Linked DNA regions of Homo sapiens: region 1 is linked to region 2. The links come from fine-mapping of genetic effects on gene expression. A gene starts in region 2. The other region holds a variant in brackets. All regions are shown on one strand. Distances are between the middles of the regions.

The links. PIP is the estimated chance that this variant, and not a neighbour inherited with it, causes the effect.
Region 1: its variant is the best candidate, but not a certain one, in a credible set for the expression of MEI1 in whole blood (TOPMed, PIP 0.86).

Annotation. Positions count from the first base shown.
Region 1 is chr22:41,815,887-41,821,259 of GRCh38, forward strand. The region is part of intron 6 of CCDC134 (coiled-coil domain containing 134); the gene reads left to right. Among named protein-coding and RNA genes, the nearest start is that of SREBF2, 15 kb to the right of the region's middle. The variant A/C (reference allele first, on the strand shown) is at 2,678.
Region 2 is chr22:41,696,512-41,701,884 of GRCh38, forward strand. MEI1 (meiotic double-stranded break formation protein 1) reads left to right here and starts at 2,992. Exons shown (of 31, transcript NM_152513.4): 1 at 2,992-3,201. The coding sequence starts at 3,028. It also overlaps the pseudogene C22orf46P. RefSeq lists enhancers at 282-361, 372-751 and a silencer at 2,965-3,064.

The DNA of each region.
Region 1 (5,373 bases), 120 kb after region 2:
CCATCTTCCTGTCTCAGCCTCCCAAAGTGTTGGGATTATAGGTGTGAGTCACTGTGTCTGGCCCCTAACCTGCAATATTGAACAGGGTCCTGGACTCAACCAGCTGTGAAGGTCCTGGAGGACCAGTAAGTCTCATTTTGGATAATCAGGATATTGTCTAAGACCAATCTGTTATCCACGACCACCCACATAAGAGAGTTTAGATTGACCTGCCAATCTTTGATGTTACTGCCAATAAGTACAGGGGGCAATAGATGGACCCAAGCAACCCTCATGCCCCCATAAGGAGACATTCCATGACCCATTCTCTCCCACATGTTACGCTTGATTTGAGTCACCAGAACAATGTTTAGTTGAGCCTGAGGGCAGTGTCACTGTGGAGCTTCAGCCTCAGTTGCCTACATGGTATAATCCAAGGCTACTCAGACATCAGGAAAAGCAGATGAATTTGTATCTGTCAGGTTGAAACAAAATTGTGCTGGCTGGTGTGTCTGCACAAGGTCACTGTTGAGAACTACCTTTGATGGCATTAGACACAGCAGAATAGCTCAGTACTGACGTGTCCATGTGAGTTTTCCTATCATGTGGATGGAAATGAGACACCCAACAGTTGGCCATATTGACAGCTGCAGCTGCCACTGGGCTTGGGCAGACCCTAGGATTGTTTTGCCAGGTGGCAGTGATGGATCTAAGGGATAAAGAGAACATTAATTGTTCCCTGCACTTTCTGGGATCTAAGGTATATCCTCCCCAGGTGGCAGGATTATTGCTATAAAATCCATGTGTCCTTGGGAGACCGAGGTGGGCGGATCATGAGGTCAGGAAAATCAAGACTATCCTGGCCAACATGGTGAAACCCCGTCTCTACTAAAAATACAAAAATTATCCGGGTGTGGTGGCGCATGCCTGGAGTCCTGGCTACTCAGGAGGCTGAGGCAGGAGAATTGCTTGAACCCAGGAGGCGGAGACTGCAGTGAGCCAAGATCGCACCACTGCACTCCAGCCTGGCGACTGAGTGAGACTGTCTCACAAAAACAAAACAAAACAAAAAGCATATGTCCTATGCCAGCATCTATAGTTTCACTTTTTCTCCAGTTGTTGCCTACTATCACTTAGATCTTTCATTCAGAAATGTCAGGTATGAATGGGACCAGGGCATTTTTACAGATGTATAGAGACCTGTTATATCTCTTCTCTTTACCCACATGGGCCACTGCAGGGAAATCAGCAAGCAGGATACTCAGCCAAGTGGTCACAATCCTAACAATCTCAGGCTGTACCATTCCAACCAGAGACTCAGGTAGTTGAACCAGAAATATACAGTCCTCTGTTTTGTGCCACTCCTTGGTAGTGGGTATGTTACCATGCCAAGTAGAATGATATGTTTAGGTGGCAGTGGCAGTGATCTGGATGAAGTAGGCTTGATCAGCAGTTTGACTCCATTTGGTCTTTTCAGAGATTGAGCTTTATGATGGGCATCTAAACGAGTGAGCCAGGCTGTCTAGTTTGTCACCACAATTTGTTTCCATAGTCTGTGGCCCTAAAGAGGGGTGAGGGGTAGGTATCGCCAGGCATGGTGGCTCACACCTGTAATCCCAGCACTTAGGGACCGAGGCAGGCGGATTGCCTGAGGTCAGAAATTTGAGACCATCCTGGCCAACATGGTGAAACCCTGTCTCTACTAAAAATACAAAAATTAGCCGGGCGAGGTGACGCATGCCTGTAGTCCCAGCTACTCGGGAGGCTGAGGCAGGAGAATCGCTTGAACCCGGGAGGCAGAGGTTGCAGTGAGGTGAGATTGCACCACTGCACTCCAGCCTGGGCAACAGAGCAAGACTCTGTCTTAAATAAATAAATAAATAAATAAATAAATAAATAAATAAAAAGAGAGGGGTAGGTATCTTTGATCTGCCAGTTTGTAATCTCCAGATGACCAGGACACTGACAATAGTCAGTAAGAATATAACATGCATGGCTGTTAGGAAGGAGTGTCATCCAAGCAAGGGTGATACCTTTTAATTCAGGCCATTGTCTGACTGGCCTTTATGGCAGTTAATCAGCCAGCATTGTTACTGGGGCTGGCTGACTGTTGCTGCCCATGGACACCTGTGTCAGGTTCCCAGAACCACTCCCAGGCTTGATGGTTCAATAGGAGGATTCACAGGACTCAGCATATGGTCATATTCATGGCCACGATTTACTACAGAGAAAAGATACAAAGCAAAATCAGCAAAGGGAAAAGGTGCATCAGGCAAAGTCCAGGGGAAATAGGCTCAGCTTCCAGAGTCCCCTCCAAGTAGAGTCAAACAGGATGTGCTTCATTCCTCCCGCAATTAGTTGTAACAACGTGTTTAAAATGTTTTCTACCAGGAAACTTAATGAGGGACCTAGTGCCTGGGTTTTTACTGGGAGCTAGTCATGTGGGTACTTTTTGCCTAACATATCAAAATGGCAAACTCCCCGGAGCAAAGTATGTATTCAGCAGAAACCATATTGTTTGCACAAACAGTTTAGGCACAGCGAACCACAGTTAGCAGTTAAGGTGGTGGGGACCCTCCTGAAATGCAAGTTCCCAGATGTCTGCTAAGGGCTAACCTTGGAAGCAGGCCTTTCAAAGGTTAGGAGTCAGGCCAGCTGTGTTGACTCTTTTCTGTACAACACTATTAGCTTTTATATT[A/C]GCTGAATTACAGTGGGCTAGGCCTGAGTACTTGGGGGAACCTGTGAATCGAGGGTCCTGTTGAGCCAGTGGCTTTGCTTTATGTGGCAGAGTCGGGGATGCTGTTTCCTCAGTGGGGTAGCTGCCACCCCTGCATGCCCAGCTGAAATGACGCATACCCCAAGGTTGCATGCTGCAATCATTACCCTGATAAATGGCCCAGATCAAGAACAGCCACGGCCTTCCGTTCTTGGTTTATGCAGCAAGAAAACATGTGTGGACACTCAAGGCCATGGCAGATTGCCTTTCCCAGCAAGGGGTTACCCATGGAGATGCTTTATTGCTGTGATGCCAGTTCTTCTTGCTATGCAGGTCATAGATGCCTCACTTAAACGCAGGAGGAGGGTGACAGCATAGGCCACAGAGAGAATGGGTGCCAGGATAAGTTGAGTCCAGCTTTATCATAACGTATTCTACTTGGACATAACCACAGCAGCAACATACTTTCCTTACATGCTGGATGGGGACAGTTCTGAGATTTTCCTCACTTTTTGATATCCTGCGTGGACTTGTCTCTCGCAGGAGCCCCAGATTTGCTTGGCTCCCCTCACATACTCCCTCCATGCTGGTGAGAGTTCTGAGTTCTCCTGCTTCTTATGTACCCATCACTAGAGTCAACTCGTATCAGGCTGTGTGCCAGCCACTGTCCCTGTCCAGGGGGCTGGCCCTGTCGCAGCTCCTCAGATGCTCACAGTCTGATGGGGAAGGCAGCAGGGAAATAGTTCTAATCCGGTGTAACTGTTATACTGGTAAGAAGCATAATTCTCTGAGGCGAGCCTGACCCAGCCTTGGCAGGGAGGTGGGATGAGTTATTTGCTGGGTGGACCAGCTGAGGCAGGGCCTTCAGGGCAGAGGGACGAACTTATGCAAAGGCTCAGATGCATCCCACATTCATTCATTCAGCATCAAGTGAGTATCTATTGCATCCTGCCCCTTGGGGAAGCAGGCTAGCCCTGTTCTCCTGGGAGTGGCATTCTAGTTGGGGAAGACAGGCAGTCAACTTAAAAATATATAATGTGGTAGGTGGTGACAAGGGCTGTGGAGAAAAAAGGCAGGGGAATGTGGTTAAGGAATGCCCGGGGTAAGGTGGGGGTGCAGTTGCTATTTCACATGGCCTGGGTACTGTCTTACTGAATTATCTGAAGGAGATGAGGAGTCATCTGTGTATCCCAAGGAAGAACATTCCAGGCTGAAGGAGCAGCAAGTGCAAAGGCTGTGAGTTGGAAGCATATTTTGGGGCTGGGGAGTGTCAGGAGATGGGGTCAGAGTTGTAGGCCTGATCCTGAGACCCTCAGAGGTCTTCACAAGGGCTTTGGCACCTACCCTGAGGGACCTGGAGAGCAGGCTGTGACTTACCACTTTATATATATATATATATATATATATATATATATATAATTTTTTTTTTTTGAGACGGAGTCTCACTCTGTCCACGCAGGCTGGAGTGCAGTGGCGCGATCTTGGCTCACTGCAAGCTCTGCCTCCCAGGTTCACGCCATTCTCCTGCCTCAGCCTCCTCAGTAGCTGGGACTACAGGCACCCACCACCACGCCCGGCTAATTTTTTTGTATTTTTAATATAGACGGGGTTTCACCATATTAGCCAGGATCGTCTCGATCTTCTGACCTCGTGATCCGCCCACCTCGGCCTCCCAAAGTGCTGGGATTACAGGTGTGAGCCACCGCTCCCAGCCGTTATTTATATATATATTTTTAAGACAGATTTTTGCTCTTGTTGCCCAGGCTGGAGTGCAATGGTGCGATCTTGGCTCACCACAACCTCCGCCTCCCAGATTCAAGCGATTCTCCTGCCTCAGCCTCCTGAGTAGCTAGGATTACAGGCGCAGACTTACCACTTTAAAGAGGTCATCTGGCTGCTGTGTGGAGCATGGTCGGGGACCAGAAGCAGGGACACAGGTGTGGAGGCTGCTGTGCTCATCTGTGTGGCAGTTGATAGTGGCTTGAACCAGACGATGACAGTGGAGCTGCTGAGAAATGGTCAGGTTCTGCTTCTCTTTTGGAAGTAGAGCCAGTGGGATTTGCTGAGGAAGCATATGTGGTGAGAGAGAGAGGAGCGTTAAGCATGACTAGAAGACTTTTGGCCTGAGTGTCTGGAAGAATGGGACTCATTTTTTCAAATGCTTGGAGAGGGAGGGTAGTAAGAGTTTTTTTCTGCACCTGGTGAACATCGGAGTAAAGATGTCAAGGAGGTAGCTGGATATTTGACTCGAGACTTCAGGGAGGAAGGAGAAGCTGGACTTATAAATGTGAGAGCCATGCCTATGTAGAAGGCACCAAAAGCCGTGAGACAGGACACAGTCATCTGGGGCATCGGGCAGGTAGAGAAGCAGTCTGAGGACTGAGGCCTGGGATGGGGCTGGAGATAGAGGTTGAAGGACTGAGGAGGAAGCAGCGAGAACCCGCAGAAGGAGCAGTCAGCATGATGGTGGCCGACCCAAGAGTTTCCCAGAGGCCACATGAGGAAAGCGTTAGAAGTAGGGAGGGAGCGATCGGTGTGTCAGACGCTGCTGGGAGGTAAGGAAGGCGAGGACTGAGAATCGACTGCTGGACTGAGTAATGTTGAGGCCGCTGGTGGTCTTGATAAAAGCTGCTTTGAGGGGGTCCTGGGAACAAAAGATTGGATTTCCAGAGAATGAG
Region 2 (5,373 bases):
TGGCTGTGAATGGTTTCATCTCTGCCCCCTGTCCTGAGATGAATCCTGTCCCCCACTGGGGTGAAGTCTTCCTGCTGGTGGGTGGGGAGGGAGAGCATCTGGCCAGCCAGGGCACAACCCCTGCCAGGGATCATAGAGTGGGGATCAGTCCAGCCTCCCAGCAGGCCCAACCTGAATCCTGGAGAAGACGACAAAGGGACAAAGGGGTGGATCCAGAGAAGGCCCCCAGCCTGACTCGGCAGTCCCAAAACCCTCCGTCTCTGACAGCTCCCTTGGGCATGCCCTCTGCCTGCTCCTGTCTCCCGTGTGGCCCAGCCCCGGAAGCTGCCATCATTCTAGCGGGTCCTCCCACCGCCCTCACTGTCCTGCCCAAGGGGACAGGCCTCAAGAAGAGCAAACGACTGCTCCTGGAGTCCCTCATGCGGAGGAGGATTGCACACCTGAAGTGGGGTCTTCCCCGGCGGATCCTGGAGTCCTATTTCCTGTTTAACTTCTTAGGATCTTGCTCATTGACCCTTGCTGGGGCGAGGCTCTCTGGACTGAACACAGGCCAGGAGCTCCAAGCCCAGCAGGAAAGGTATTGTGAGGCCCAAGGCTCCCCACCAGGCCTTAAGTCCCCAGAGAGGTTCCAGAGGGTTCAGCGCCCAGACAGAAAAAGCTCGAAACTTCCTATACAAGCCAGAGCTCTGGAGAGGAACAGACCGCACATGTCAGAGCCCATTAAGCATTTCCATCCAGCCTGAAAAGGCCAGGAGAGTCAGGCCACCAGGGGGCGCCAGAGAACCACAGGAGATCCAGGAAGCGCTTGCTAGGACCAAGCTCCCAGCTCCCAGGACCCCCAGGCCGGCAGCGGAGTCCAGGAGCTGGTGTGGCCCACAAAGGGTCGGAGAGCCTCCCAGTGAGAACAGTAGGGGCAGGAAAATGATCAGGTCAAGGGTCTCCCAGCTGGCAGAGAGGGCTCCCAGCAGAGTGAGGACTTCATTCTCTAGGGCAGACCACGCCCACTGGAGGAAGGAATGTACATCCTGGGAGGCCTCTAAGCTCCCCAGACTCAAATGCCAGCAGCTCACATACTGGAGAAGAGGAAGCCTGGAATCTACAGGGTGCAGAGGGGCTGGGCAGCAGCCTTCCTGCCATTCTGCAGAACCTGTCAGCTTCAAAGGGAGGCTCCACTCTGCGGTGGCAAAGCTGGGCCTGACCCTTCTGGCCAAGATGTCCTGGTCCCCACAGCTCGCCAAGCGCAAGCACTTGGCCCCTAACCTGAGCCTGAGGGAACCTGATTCTACTCTGCCTCCCAAAGTGGGTGATCCTCGTGCAGGGGAGGACAGCATCGGAGATCACACTGCTTCACAGAGGGATCTTCAGCTGCAAGGTCACTGCTGTACTGGGGCCACCCTTCCTAAGACAGAGAGTCCCCAGGGCCAGGAGGCACCTGGGAACCCAAATGGGGCTCCACAGAATACACGAGCCTCCAAAAAGTTTAGTATTATGAAGCATCTGAATTTTTTTCTCTTCCAGAATGGCTTTAAAAAGTAGACTCAGGCCCAGAGTCCTCAGGACATATCAGAAAAGCTTTGAGAGTGTCCTGATCCCTGCAAAGCCTCTAATAAATTGGTCATTTGGGCCCTGTGGTGTTCTGATTTCTCTGGCACATTTTCCAAGTGCCCCCTTTCGGGGTTTGGGATACTTTGTGGGTGGGGTAGAAGCCCCTTCCACTCTGTGGTTGTGGTTTAGGGAATGTGGGTCAACCCAGTGTCCTCTCCGAAACACCTGCCCCCCAGCTCCTCACAGTGGAGTCCACTGAGGTTCTATCCTGCTCTGTCTCCAAGCTAATCCTGATTGAGGCAGGACACTCCAAAAGCCTCAGCTGCTTATGGGGAGGGGTGGTCCTCTGCATGGGACGCTTTTTTTTTTTTTTTTGAGATGGAGTGTAGGTCTGTGGCCCAAGCTGGAGTTCAGTGGCTTGATCTCCGCTCACTGTAACCTCCGCCTCCTGGGTTCAAGCGATTCTGCTGCCTCAGCCTCCCGAGTAGCTGGGATTACAGTCATGAGCCACCACACCCAGCTAATTTTTGTATTTTTAGTAGAGGAGGGGTTTCGCCCTGTTGCTCAGGCTGGTCTTGAACTTCTTTCTCTCTGTCTTTGGTGTTTTGTTTTGTTTTTTTACTTTTATTTTTTGGTCTTAAGCTTCTGATTTATTTATTTATTTTTAAGATGGAGTCTTCCTCTGTCACCCAGGCTGGAGTGCAGTGGTGCGATCTTGGCTCACTGCAACCTCCACCTCCCAGGTTCAAGTGATTCTCCTGCCTCAGCCTCCCTCCCAAAGTGCTGTGATTACAGGCATGAGCCAACTCACCCAGCCTCTAATTGCTTTTAGATGCGAATCCTTGGGATCGCTTATTTTCCTTTTTTTTTTTTTTTTTGAGATAGAGTCTTGCTCTGTCGCCAGGCTGGAGTGCAGTGGCACAATCTCAGCTCACTGCAACCTCCGCCTCCCAGGTTCAAGTGATTCCCCTGCCTCAAGCCTCCCAAGTAGCTGGGATTACAGGCACTTGCCACCACACCCAGCTAATTTTTTGTATTTTAGTAGAGACGGGGTTTCACCATGTTGGGTAAGATGGTCTTGATCTCCAGATCTCGTGATCCGCCCACCTCGGCTTCCCAAAGTGCTGGGATTACAGGCGTGAGCCACCATGCCCGGCCTTCATTTTTAAAAAACAGTAGAAATAGCTTCCTTTCCTTCCTTTTTCAAGGCAAATGCCCCCTACTTTATAATTGCTTTTCAACTTTGGATGTGGTAAAGACATTCCTGCAGGGTTCTAAGCACAAACCGCTTTTGGCTTAGCTAGACACGATCCAGAGCACTTGCGTCCACCACTTGCCCTCAGTGGCTGCTGCTCGTCTGAGACTGCAGCGCCCTGGGTCCGCGCAGGCGCATTCCACACCGACGCAGGTCCGTCCTCCAAGTGCGCATGCGTGCAGTCTGCGCGGGAAAGAGTGCCGCCTCAGCTGAGGGCAAGCGAGGAGATGGCTGTGAGGCAGGCGGCGACGGCGGGCACTCCCGGGCCCAGGAGAGAGGAAGAGGCGGCGCTTCTATTCGAGAGGGCCCATTACCGGCACGACCCGCGCTGGCTGCTGCCCGTGACCCCCCGCCTGTGCCTGGCCTGCGCGCTGGAGCTGCTGCCGGACCCCGGCGTGTCGGTGCGGGCGGAACCTTTTCTTCAGAAGACCTGGGTTTGGCCATTTCCCTCAGCAAACGCGGCCAGGCCCTTGCCAGACCCGCTCCGGTGAACCCGACGCGAAACCGGGCCCCCGCGCTGTGTTCACTCTCCTCCCTGTCAGCCCGTCCCGGACCCGGCCGCAGCGGCCTCTCGGGCCCCTCAGCCCCAGGCCGGCCTGCGGGCCTCCGTGGAGCCCGGTCCACTGGCTCTGCGCCTGAAAGGACGGAAATCCGGATCCCCCGGGACCTCACCCAGTCTCAGGGACACACCTTCCCGCCTTCCGCCTTCTGGCTCCTTCCCTTTGCTGCCCCTGCCTCCATTTCCCGGGGATTCGGCCTTAGCTCAGGCTCCCGCCATTTCAGCCTCCCGCCATTTCAGCCTCCACTCACCTGCGGGCCAGGGGCGCATGCGGCGGCCGCTCCTCATTCCCTTCAGCTGTCGGGGTGTGAATCGGAGGAGGGGCAGTCTGGGCTCCGAGGGGACAGGAGTGACAGGTTACAGCCGGGCAGAAGTGGGGGTGAACGGGAAGACTGTTCCTTGGGCAGAGCTGGCCAAAGCGGGCTGCCTGGGTCCTCATTGCCTACCGCGTTTGCAATGAAGTGGTTTTGTTTGTTTCGAGACGGAGTCTCGCTCTGACACCCAGGCCGGAGTGCAATGGCGCCATCTCCGCTCACTGCAACCTCTGTTTCCTGGGTTCAAGCGATTCTCCTGCCTCAACCTACCCAGTAGCTGGGATTACAGGCTCCCGCCACCACGCTCGGCTAATTTCTCTATTTTTAGTAGAGACGGAGTTTCATCATGTTGGCCAGGCTGGTCTCGAACTCTTGACCTCAGGTGATCCACCCGCCTCGGCTTCCCATAGTGCTGGGATTATAGGCGTGAGCCACGGTGCCCGACCTGCAGTGAGTTTTCTTGTCCATGGAGGCATCCAAGAAGACTTTGGGAGGTCAAGTTTCTCTCCAATTCATGGGAGGGGAATTCGTGAGTGGGTGGATTGGCTAGATCAGCAGTTCTCAATTTTTTTTTTTTTTTTTTTTTTTTTTGTAGAAACGGTCCCGGGGGTCTCCCTGTGTTGCCCAGGCTGGTCTTGAACTCCTAGTCTCAAGCAATTCTCCTGCCTTGACCTCCCAAAGTCCAAAGTGTTGGGATTGCATCTGTGAGCCACCGTGCCTGGCTGCGTTCTCAAATATTTTGATTTCTTTCTTTCTTTTTTTTTTTTTTTTTGAGATGGAGTTTCACTCTTGTTGCCCAGGCTGGAGTGCAATGGCGCAATCTCAGCTCACCGCAACCTCCGCCTCCCGGGTTCAAGCGATTCTCCTGCCTCAGCCTTCCGAGTAGCTGGGATTACATGCATGCGTCACTACGCCCAGCTAATTTTGTATTTTTAGTATAGACGGGGTTTCTCCATGTTGGTCAGGTTGGTGTTGAACTCCCAACCTCAGGTGATCTGCCTGCCTCAGCCTCCCAAAGTGTTGGGATTAAAGACGTGAGCCACCACACCCGGCCAAACAGCTGGATTTTTATCTATTTCTGCATTCAGTCTGTTGTGCTATCATGTCATATAGTCTCAAAAACTCCACTGTACACTTGTGGGAGAATAAGAATGAGAAAGACTGGGCCGGGTCCGGTGGCTCACACCTGTAATCCCAGCACTTTGGGAGGCCGAGGTGGTTGGATCACGAGGCCAGAAGTTCAAGACCAGCCTGGCCAACATGGAAAAAATTTAAAAAAAAATGAGGAAGACTAAGAACATTTTAATATTATATGAAAATATTTTTGTTCTTGTGGACCTCTGGGAAGTGTTTTAGGCACCCTTAGGAATTCCCACACTGTGCTCTGGGAACTCGTAAACTAGCTAATAACCTCTGAATTTTCATTAAGGATGGAAATTCTGAGGCTGCTTTTCTTGGACAGTAAATCAGAGATGAATAAGACAGTGCAGCGGGGAGAAATAAGAGAACATGTTAGAACTTAGAAGAATGAACATGTTTGTAGTCAAGTGCTGTTCAGGGTAAGGAGAGGAATTAGGAAAGGTTTCTTAGAGGAGGAAGCATTCAAATTAGGTTTAAGAAGATGGGTGAGATTTGGACCAGAGGAAGTGGGAGGCTGATTATCCCAGGAGGTAGGTATTATAAGGATGGGTTTTGGGGAT